2 separate regions of the Homo sapiens genome follow, and region 1 is linked to region 2. Evidence: fine-mapped expression QTL. A gene starts in region 2. The other region holds a variant in brackets. All regions are shown on one strand. Distances are from middle to middle. Region 1 overlaps UBE2K (ubiquitin conjugating enzyme E2 K). Region 2 holds the start of UBE2K (ubiquitin conjugating enzyme E2 K).

The links.
Region 1: its variant is fine-mapped to the expression of UBE2K in whole blood (INTERVAL, PIP above 0.99).

Annotation. Positions count from the first base shown.
Region 1 is chr4:39,758,636-39,764,018 of GRCh38, reverse strand. The region is part of intron 4 of UBE2K (ubiquitin conjugating enzyme E2 K); the gene reads right to left. It also overlaps the pseudogene RN7SL558P. Among named protein-coding and RNA genes, the nearest start is that of UBE2K, 63 kb to the right of the region's middle. The variant T/C (reference allele first, on the strand shown) is at 2,480.
Region 2 is chr4:39,695,515-39,700,897 of GRCh38, reverse strand. UBE2K (ubiquitin conjugating enzyme E2 K) reads right to left here and starts at 2,762. Exons shown (of 7, transcript NM_005339.5): 1 at 2,508-2,762. The coding sequence starts at 2,570. RefSeq lists a silencer at 2,779-3,068 and an enhancer at 3,149-3,208.

The sequences.
Region 1 (5,383 bases), 63 kb before region 2:
GGCTCACGCCTGCAGTCTCAGCACTTTGGGAGGCTGAAGCAGGTAGATCGCTTGAGCCCAGGAGTTTAAGACCAGCCTGGGCAATGAGGTGAAACTCTGTCTCTACAAAAAATTAGCCAAGTGTGGTAGCACGTGACTGTAGTTACAGTTACTCAGAAGGCTGAGGTGGGAAGACCAATTGAGCCTGGAAGGTTGAGGCTGCAGTGAGCCACAGCACTCTAGTCTGGGTGGCAGAGTGAGATTCTGTCTCAAAAAATAAAAATAAAAATAAATATCCAAACAAAACCTATTGATATAGTTTGGATATTTGTCCTCTCCAAATCTCATGCTGCAATGTAATTCCCAGTGTTGGCGGTGGAGCCTGGGGAGAGGTGTTTGGATCCTGGGGGCAAATCGCTCATGAATGGCTTAGTGCCACCCCATTGGTGATGACTGAGTTCATGTGAGAGCTGGTTGTTTTAAGTGTTTTGGCTGGGCGTGGTGGCTCATGCCTGTAATCCCAGCACTTTGGGAGGTCAGGTGCACAGATGATCCGAGGTTGGGAGTTCGAGACCAGCCTGACCAACATGGAGAAACCCCGTCTCTACTAAAATTACAAAATTAGCTGGGTGTGGTGGCACATGCCTGTAATCCCAGCTACTTGGGAGGCTGAGGCAGGAGAATCACTTGCACCCGGGAGGTGGAGGTTGCAGTGAGCCAACATCGTGACATTGCACTCCAGCCCGGGTAACAAGAGCGAAACTCTGTCTCAAAGAAAAAAAAAAAAAGTGTTTTAAGGCTGGATGCAGTGGCTCATGCCTTTAACCCCAGCAATTTGGGAGGCCAAGGCGGGTGGATCACTTGAGCCCAGGAATTCCAGACCAGCCTGGCCAACATGGCAAAAGTCTATCTGTATTAAAAACACAAATATTAGCTGGGCATGGTGGCACGTGCCTGTAATCCCAGCTACTCAGGAGGCTGAGGCATGAGGGCACGAGAAGTGCTTAAACCCGGGAGGTGGAGGTTGCAGTGAGCCAAGATTGCACCATTGTACTCCAGCTTGGGCGACAGTCTCCAAAAAAAAAAAAAAAAAAAAAAAAAAAGTGTTTTTTGGCCGGGTGCGTGGCTCACGCCTGTAATCCCAACACTTTAGGAGGCCGAGGGCAGATCATGAGGTCAGGAGTTCGAGACCAGCCTGGCCAACACAGTGAAACACCATCTCACTAAAAATACAAAAACTAGCCAGGCGTGATAGCACGCACCTGTAGTCCCAGCTACTCAGGAGGATGAGGCAGGAGAATCGCTTGAACCCAGCAGGCGGAGGCTGCAGTGAGCCAAGATTGTGCCATTGCACACCAGCCTGCTCAACAGTGTGAGACTGTCTCAAACAAAGTGTTTTAAAAGTATGTGGCAACTTCCCTGCTCTCTGTTGCTTCCACTCTATTTTCTACCCTCATGATGTGAAACAGGCTCCTCTTTCATCTTCTGCTGTGATCATAAGCTCCCTGAGGCCTCACCAGAAATTGAGCTGATGTTGGCACCACACTTCCTATACAGCCTGAAGAATCAGAAGCCAAATGGAACCTCTTTTCCTTATAAATTACTCAGTTTCAGGTATTCCTTTATGGCAATGCAAAAACAGCCTACCACACCTATTTTTCTAACCCTAAATACTATAGACCAGGAGTAGGGGGTCAAGTCTGTAATCTTAGCACTTCAGGAGGCCAAGGTGGAAGGATCACTTGAGGCCAGGTGCTTGAGACCAGCTTGGGCAACATAGCAAGACCCCATCTCTACAATAAGTAAATAAATAAAATAAATTTCAAGATTTATTATTATTATTATTATTATTATTTTACTGAGATGGGAGTCTCGCTCTGTAGCCCAGGCTGCAGTGCAGTGAGGCGATCTCGGCTCACTGCAACCTCTGCCCCTCCAGGTTTAAGCGATTCTCTGCCTCAGCCTCCAGAGTAGCTAGGATTACAGGCGCATGCCACTACGCCCGGCTAATTTTTTATTTTTATTTTTAGTGGAGACGGGGTTTCACCATCTTGCCCAGGCTGGTCTTGAACTCCCAACCTCGTGATCCACCCACCTCGGCCTCCCAAACTGCTGGGATTATAGGCATCAGCCACCACATCCGGCCAGCAACCGGCCTAAAACTTTAAAAAAAAAAAATGAATACTATAGAAACTGTATCTTCGATAATATAAAGAAATGTGTGCAATTTTGGACTGCTCTAATCTAAATTCAGTAATGTGAAAAAGTATATAACTGAAAACATGCTTTTGTTCCATTTCTTCTTCTATTTACAAAGTAGTGATCAAATCTATATTGTACTGATATCTTTAGGATCAGTATATACAATCAACTTAAATCTATTATAACAAATCCTAACAGGCAAACAGGAATATGAAATTTCAAAATGTGTCAATCTTTATAATTTAGAAGATAATATGAATAAATCAGTACCTCATAAATCTATGTCCGGTAAATAAAT[T/C]TTGCTCAAGTCTCAAATCAGTAAGACATAGTTAATGTGGCTATGTAAATATTCATATATTCATTCATAAGGACTCAGGCCTTACTATGTAGAATAATCATGTGAATTGTTCATACCGTTGACTAACTTTTCTGTTAAGGATCTTCCAACAGATCATCAATAATTAAACCACGTTCATTCAAAACACTAAATGCTACTTAAAGAGGATGGCAGCTTTTATACTAAAGATTTTATTTTTTAAAGAGATTGGGTTTCACTATGTTGTCAAGGCTGGGATGCAGTGGCTATTCACAGGTGTTATCTCACTATTGACTAGCACAGGAGTTTTGACCTGCTCTGTTTCCAACCTTGTCTGGTTCACGTCTCCTTAGGCAATCTGGTGGTCCTCTGTTCCTAAGAGGTCACCATACTTATGCCCAACTTAATGTGGACACCTGACTGGCATAGCACACTTCAGCCCAGACTTGCTGGTCTTAAGCAATCCTCTTGCCTCAGCCTCCTGAGTAGCTGGGACTACAGGTGTGCACCATTGTACCCAGCTGCTATAAATTTTTTTGTTAAAGTTTAAGCAAAGTTAAGATACCATGCAGCTGGATGAATTTTTATATCTGTATATATCCATGTAACCACCGCCTGGATAAAAATAGAGTATTTTTAGCATTACAAAGCCTCACTTCTGCTCCTCCTACTCACAACTCCTGCCCACCCTCACCACTATCGTATTTTTTTATTTGTTTTAATTTTTTTTAATTTTAATTTTTATTTTTTGAGACGGAGTCTCGCTGTAGCTAATTTTTTGTATTTTTAGTAGAGACGGGGTTTCACCGTGTTAGCCAGGATGGTCTCAATCTCCTGACCTCATGATCCGCCCGCCTCGGCCTCCCAAAGTGCTGGGATTACAGGCGTGAGCCACTGCGCTGGGCTATCGTATTTTTTATCACCATAAATTCTGGTTCATCTTCAATTTCATAAAAATTGAACCATACAGTATGTATTCTTTTGTGTCTGGCTTTTGTCACTCAACATGACTGAGTCTCATCCATGTTGTTTGTGTCAATGATAGGCTCTTTTTTACTGTTTATGTAGTGCTCCAGTGTGTGATCACAATGTATCAATTTTCTTGTTGATGAGACATCTAAGTTATTTCCCGTTGGGGCTATTAATAAATCTGCCATAAATATTCTTTTATACATGTCTTTTAAAAAGTAGGCATAGACACTAATTTCTTTTAGATATATACCTAGGAATGAAGCTGATAGGGCATACTGAAGGTGTATGTTTAGCTTTGGTAGATATTACTGGCTTTAAGTGGTTAAACCACATTATTTGTTTTTTTTTTTTTTTCTGTTTTTTTTTTTTTTTTGTGACAGAGTCTCGCTCTGTCACCCAGGCTGGAGTGCAGTGGCGCGATGTCGGCTCACTGCAACCTCTGCCTCCCAGGTTCAAGAGATTCTCCTGTCTCAGCCCCACGAGTAGCTGGGATTACAGGTGCCCACCACCCACGCCTGGCTAATTTTTGTATTTTTAGTAGAGATGGGGTTTCACCATGTTGGCCAGGCTGGTCTTGAACTCCTGACCTCAAGCAATCCACCTACCTTGGCCTCCCAAAGTGTTGGGATAACAGGCATGAGCCACCGTGCCCTGCCTGGTTAAGCCACATTCTTACCAGCAATGCATGAGGTATTTGTGTTTACAGGCATGTAGTAGTTATCTTATTGTGATTTTCATTTGCATTTCCCTGATGAGTAATGATGCTGAGCATACCTTATCGACCAGGCAGATATTCTGTGCCTGTTTGTGTCTTTTAGAAGGGCAGCGTCACTGAGTGAAATTTTTATGTGTTGCCATTTTCTTCCCCAGGTAAGTAGACACCATTAGTCATAGTAAGTGTCAGTGGAAAACATTAGAAAATAGTTTCCACACAGCACAAGTTGTGGAATTAAGAAATAAACCAGGGGCCGGGCACAGTGGCTCACGCCTGTCATTGCAGCACTCTGGGAGGCCGAGGCCAGTGGATCACCTGAGGTCAGGAGTTTGAGACCAGCCTGGCCAACACGGTGGAACCCTGTCTCTACTAAAAATAGAAAAAAATTAGCTGGGCGTGGTGGCACATGCCTGTAATGTAATCCCAGATACTTAGGAGGCCGAGGCAGGAGAACTGCTTGAGCCCGGGAGGCGGAGGTTGCAGTGAGCAGAGATGGCACCATTGCACTCCAGCCTGGGTGACAGAGCGAGACTTTGCCTCAAAAAAAAATAATAATAATAAACAAATATACTAAAATAAGTTAAATATTAATAAAGGTATATCATCACCCCTAGATGCATTAATAAAAGACCAAGATTAACCAATTATTTTCTAGTATGCCTGCTGAAAATTATTTATGTAATTCATTTTTCCTATGATTAAGACTCTGTATTTTTCTCTATCAAATTCCAGTTCTGAAACCTAAACATCCACATTTAAATATGGATATGCACTAAATGTCAATTATACCTCAGTAAAGCTCTGGGAATAAAGTAATGACTTCATGAATATCTAGTCTCACCTATTTTATCTAATGTGTCTTTGGTATATTCTAATATTTCAATTGTACAGATAAAAAACAAGATTATTCACCTGCCTTAGGAAAAGGGAATAGTTGATGTAAAAAATGTTTTGTTCCTGCACATCATATTAGGAGAAAATGTTTTGGTATAAAAATTCAACTTCTCTCTCTATATATACACACCATAATCTTTCAACTAGCTATATAGGAAGATAATTACAAGTAATAGTACTGTTGGCTTAACTCTGGGCAAAAAGAGAAGTCAATGGGAAGTTTTCATCTGCAAACTTTTTCTTTCTTTTTTTTTTTTATTTTTGAGATGGGGTCTCACTCCGTCGCCCAGGCTAGAGTGCAATGG
Region 2 (5,383 bases):
TTTTTCACATTTATCTTGTTGGCTGTATTTTAACACACTCTAAGAACGGCCACTTATAATCTCTCATAACCAGAATCCAGTAAGCGTCAGCTATCTTTACAAAGGCTCTTATAAGGCCACCCCAAAAAGTCCTTAAATCAACCAGTGTTCTTAGTAAACACAAGCATACAAACACATGAAATAAACTTCGGTAAAGTGCTGATTTACCAAAAAAGTGACATGATGAAACATTTATTTGATCAGCCATTCAAAAGACTGTATTTACACCCTTAAAAAGGAAACACATGGACTATACTACAAGTCTTCAATGAGTTGAAAATAACAATACACTTATAGAACTGGGGCTACTAAAATATCAAAAAATACTGGTGAAAATAAGCTATTTATTGGTTATATTTATTCCAAGATTAAATGATGTGACCCTTTCCTAAATGTTCTTTCCAACTTATTTTCCCAGAAGTTTCCTTCCATATTTATACAGGTACTGTTCTAAACAAAACAAAACAAAACAAACAAACAACAAAAACAACAAAAAACCTGTCTGTTTGCATTTCCTGTTTTCTTCTTCTGAAACACTTTTGATGCTTATCTGAAGTAAGGCTTCAACATCCCTTACGTATAAAGAGCAGTGTTTTTTTAATATGCATTACTAGAGAGCAATACAAGTATTTCTGGTAATCTTCAACTTAGTACTAAGAATACCACGGTGAAAAGTCAGCTCATAAAAAGCAAAGAGACCACATTAATTACCAGAGCAGTAACTTACTGTTTCTGTTACCGTAAGTAACAGAAAATAAAGCATTAAAAGTCTATTAAGTTTCAGGCTTGTACAACCTTATTAAACAAGAAATGTTTTCAGTTGTTGGCAACAACAACTGCTTTCATTAGGAGTATATATGTCAACTAACCTGGAATACATTTTCATATTAAATAAGTTAAAATTGCTGTTTCATTGTATCAGTACAGACACTTATGACTCTATTTCTGCATTGTACCACAAAATACAAAGTCATCCTTCCATTCAGAGTTTTGGCATATGAACAAACATAGAGGTCAGAGTTCATACACATGCTCTGTAAAACCGACCATGACTTATATACTACTTTCAATAAGTCTGTTGTCATTTTTGAATTTTAAATAATTTTTTCTCCATGTATACTCATCACATACTTAGAATGCTGAATTTCACAAATTATTATTGACACTATTAAAGTACTAACTGTAAAAGAAAAACACAAATAGCAATGATATATTCAATAATGGTATGTGAATCTTGAAAATAATCATTTTCTGTATTACTTTTTGTTTAATTCATGTGGGGAAGACAATCTGGCATTCTTGTTGATCTTGGTATGAGAAACTGTACTAATACTTGCATAATTTTGAGTCAAATTACTAGAGCACTGTGAATATCTTACATAAATAAACGTAGTACAAATGTATCTAAATTCTGCAGGACTTAAGAGCAACGGGAGGCAACTTTTTTGAAAATCTGTTAAGTCGTGATAAATCTCAATAAGGAGATGAAACAATGTATTAATCTGGTGAAATTTCACATTTTTAATAGGTCTGCTTTTCAAAAGTAAGAATCAAGTTAACTATGAGGGACATCATAATGAAGTTTCGTGGCACAACACGAGTCACAGAGGCACTGTCTTAAGACAGTCTCTCTGATCTGTAACTTGTAAACAATATTTTGAAATAAGCTACTCATACATTCCATTATTTGTTTCCTAACTAAAAATATTTACATGTCTTTAATACACCAAACACCTTGCCTTTGCCCACTCAAAAGATTGAGATGTCAATAAAGATGAGGCCTAGGAATTTGGGGGTTAAGTGGAAAAGAGATAATTATCTTATTTGGAATTAACTTGCTAACTCAGGTGAAAATTCCCTTACCCCTGCCACCAAATAAGACAGTATTCTATTATGTCTCCCTTTGACTCCTAACACCCAACTAAGAAGGACTAACTCTGAATGTCCTTCCTTTTTAATCAATACCTAAGGACTCACTGCTCCTTCCCCAAGAAAAGAACAGTGAAGGCCTGACAGGCAATAACCCCGAATACCCTCAAAAGTGTGGGCCTTCGAGCAGCACTGCTCTTGGGATCCAGTTACCACCTTTCCCCTTCCCCCAACCCACTTCCCGGGTTTTCTCAGGCTCGGCCTGCTCCCTCCCCACCCCACAGCCACATTTCCAGCTGCGGCCACCGCCTCGGGTTCTCTTGTGAGCTTCCATCCCTCCGAGGAGTTGCCCCCTGTCCATCACCTCCCCAAACCATGTTCCACCCCAGACCACCCGCCCGCGAGACCGTCCATCCTAGCGCTCTGGGAGGGGAGGGGAAGGCGGCGGAAGGAGGAGGGGAACACTGCTGCTTCCTCACAGGCAGAAGGGCGGCCGCAAGGAGGACCACCCAGGGACTACCGGGGATATCGGGGTCGCAGCTGGGAGGACCCTCCCGCCCCAGGCAGAGGTGGGGGATATCCGGGAGTTCATTTCTGACCTCCTCGCTCTTCAGCACCTCCTTGAACTCCCGCTTGATTCGCTGCACCGCGATGTTGGCCATGTCTCCGCCCGCAGCTGATTCGTACCCGCCTCCTCCGCCACCGCTACGACCACCGCCACCGCCGCCACCTCTTCCTCCACCGCCTCCTCCCTCGGCGATTCAGACCTGAGCACACGAACACTGCCACTACCACCCCGGCCGCCGCGCTCGCCTCAGTGTGGAATCACCTCCGCGCCCGGCCACCAAAATGGCGCCGGGTCGGCGCATGCGCACGACGTTGACCCGGCCGGGCGGCGCAGCCGCTCCCGTTGGAGCCCCCATACGCCCGAGCCACGAGCTCGCGTCTCGGCTGGGGCTGCGGCCGCGTGGCTCCGCCCTGCCGGCGTCTGGGGCCGCGAGGGTGCGGCTTCCAAGCTGGCCGGCCCTAGCCGGCCCCCCCGGCCCTTCCCGGCGCCTCCGCTCCTGTTTAAACCCGGGTGCTGTGGTCTGGGCTTCCAGCGCTGGCCTCTGACCGAAGGTTCGGGCGCAACCGAACGGGTTTCCGACGCCGCACTCGGCTGGAACGCCGCCCTGACTCAGCTAGACCCGGAACCCGGAGGCTGAACGCCGTGTCTAGCGCAGGAAAACGCTCTCCCGGATCTCGGTCCGGCCCATTTTCAGTTGGTGTAGCCCCAGAAAATCTACTGCAGTCGTTTTTGTTCTGCAACATTTATAGTACCACGATTATTCCCATCATCTCAGGTAGCACAGATTATTGAATTAAGGCTGGTTATTGTTGGATCAGATTGGGTTTGAGACAGGTACTCGGTGGAGAGGCCTGAGGGTGGGTTTAGAAGCCAGATGTTGCTCTTTGACCTATTTAATACCGAGCTTGACACACACACACAATCTCTCTCTCTCTCTCTCTCTCTCTCTCACACACACACACACACACACACACACACACTCCTATGCCCATCCCTAGAGTGTAGGGTGGGCCTAAGACTGCGCTTCTAACAAGTCTCCCAGTTGCTGCTGCTGTTGGTGCTGGTTCCGGGACCACATTATGAGAACCACTGAACTGAATGAAGCATGTGAAAATTCACATATATTAAAGTGAAAATTGGAGAAATGGAAACAATTACAGTACCCTTCAGGGGACTCGGGGTGGGGGAGGGGGAGCCTTATTTCTGTAAACCTAGGCCTCAAAGGTGCCTGGTGATAGTAGGCACTCAATAAATATTGAATGAGTAAATGAGTACAGATAAGACTAAAACGTTTTTGCTGGCGCGGCGGATCGCTTGAGGTCAGGAGTCCGAGACCAGTCTGGCCAACATGGTGAAACCCCATCTCTACTAAAAATACAAAAATCAGCCAGGTGTGGTGGCAGGCACCTGTAATCCCAGCTATTCTGGAGGCTGAGGCAGGAACATCGCTTGAACCTGGGGGTCGGAGGTTGCAGTGAGCGAGATCGCGCCACTGCACTCCAGCCTGGGCCACAGTGCAAGATTCTGTCTCAAACAAAACAAAACAAAACAAAAAGTATAAAATATTTTAAGTGGAAAGTAAGTTTGAAAGTGGTTTCTGGGCCAGGTGCGGTGGCTCACGCCTGTAATCCCAGCACTTTGGGAGGCGGAGGCGGGCGGATCACGAGGTCAGGAGATCAAGACCATCCTGGCTAACACGGTGAAACCCCGTCTCTACTAAAAAAATATAAAAAAAATAGCTGGGCGTGGTGGCGGGCGCCTGTAGTCCCAGCTACTCGGGAGGCTGAGGCAGGAGAATGGCGTGAACCCGGGAGGCGGAGCTTGCAGCGAGCGAGATTGCGCCACTGCACTCCAGTCTGGGCAACGGAGCGAGACTCCGTCTCAAAAAAAAACAAAAAACAAACAAACAAAAGAAAGTGGTTTCTGGTCGGGCGCGGTGGCTCACGCCTGTAATCCCAGCACTTTGGAAGGCCGAGGGGGAGCAGATCACTTGAGCCCAGGAGTTTGAGACCAACCTGGGCCCTATGGTGAAATCCTGTCTCTAAAGATAATAATTTTTAAAAAAGAAAGTGGTTTCTAAGGTGCATAGTAATAATGGTTTGGTACTGAGAAGCATTTTGAATAGAACATTTTGGAATAAGTAATAAGGGTGTCATTTCAGAAGTTTATACTTCATGCACTTTCTTCACCTAGCCAATCAGTAAAATATCTATTATAAAAATATCACAAATACATGGTTTTACCAAAAGTAATTAAAATTGTGGTGGCAAACATGGAAATAGCCAATGGAGGCGAATCAGTGGGGGCACAAGGCAAAAGAGAATTTCTTAAACTCCCGCCCCAGGAACCAAGAGGAGATTTTAAAATTCCAGTTCTCTCCCATGGCAGTTCTCTTGCCAGCTTTTATTTCCTCATCTACGAAACGAGAAAACTGGATTAGATTATCTCTCTCAAGTTTTAAGAGTTCAGAATTCGAAAATATCATCTCAAAACATTTCCCCTAAGTGGGCTGACATAAATTATATAAACCCTTCTAGCAGAGCCCCCTAGTGGTCCTAAGAGGACTCAACCATATACGTAGGTCATGGTACAAGGAATTATTGGTGTAATGTAAATCACGCAATGCTATATGTATTTGTGCCAGTAGACTTAAAAAAATTATTTTGAAGAGTGCAAAAACTTTTTGAGCACTTTACATTATCACTGTCCAATCCTAATCTTGGAATGTGAAGAAACTTGGAATACTCAAAGGGGGACCAGTTAGAAGGGTCCAGGCCGGGCGCCCTGATTTATGTCTGTAATCCCAGCACTTTGGGAGGCCGAGGCGGGCGGATCGCTTGAGCTCAGGAATTCGAGACCAGCCTGGGCAACATGGTGAGACCCCCGACTCTACTAAAATACAAAAAC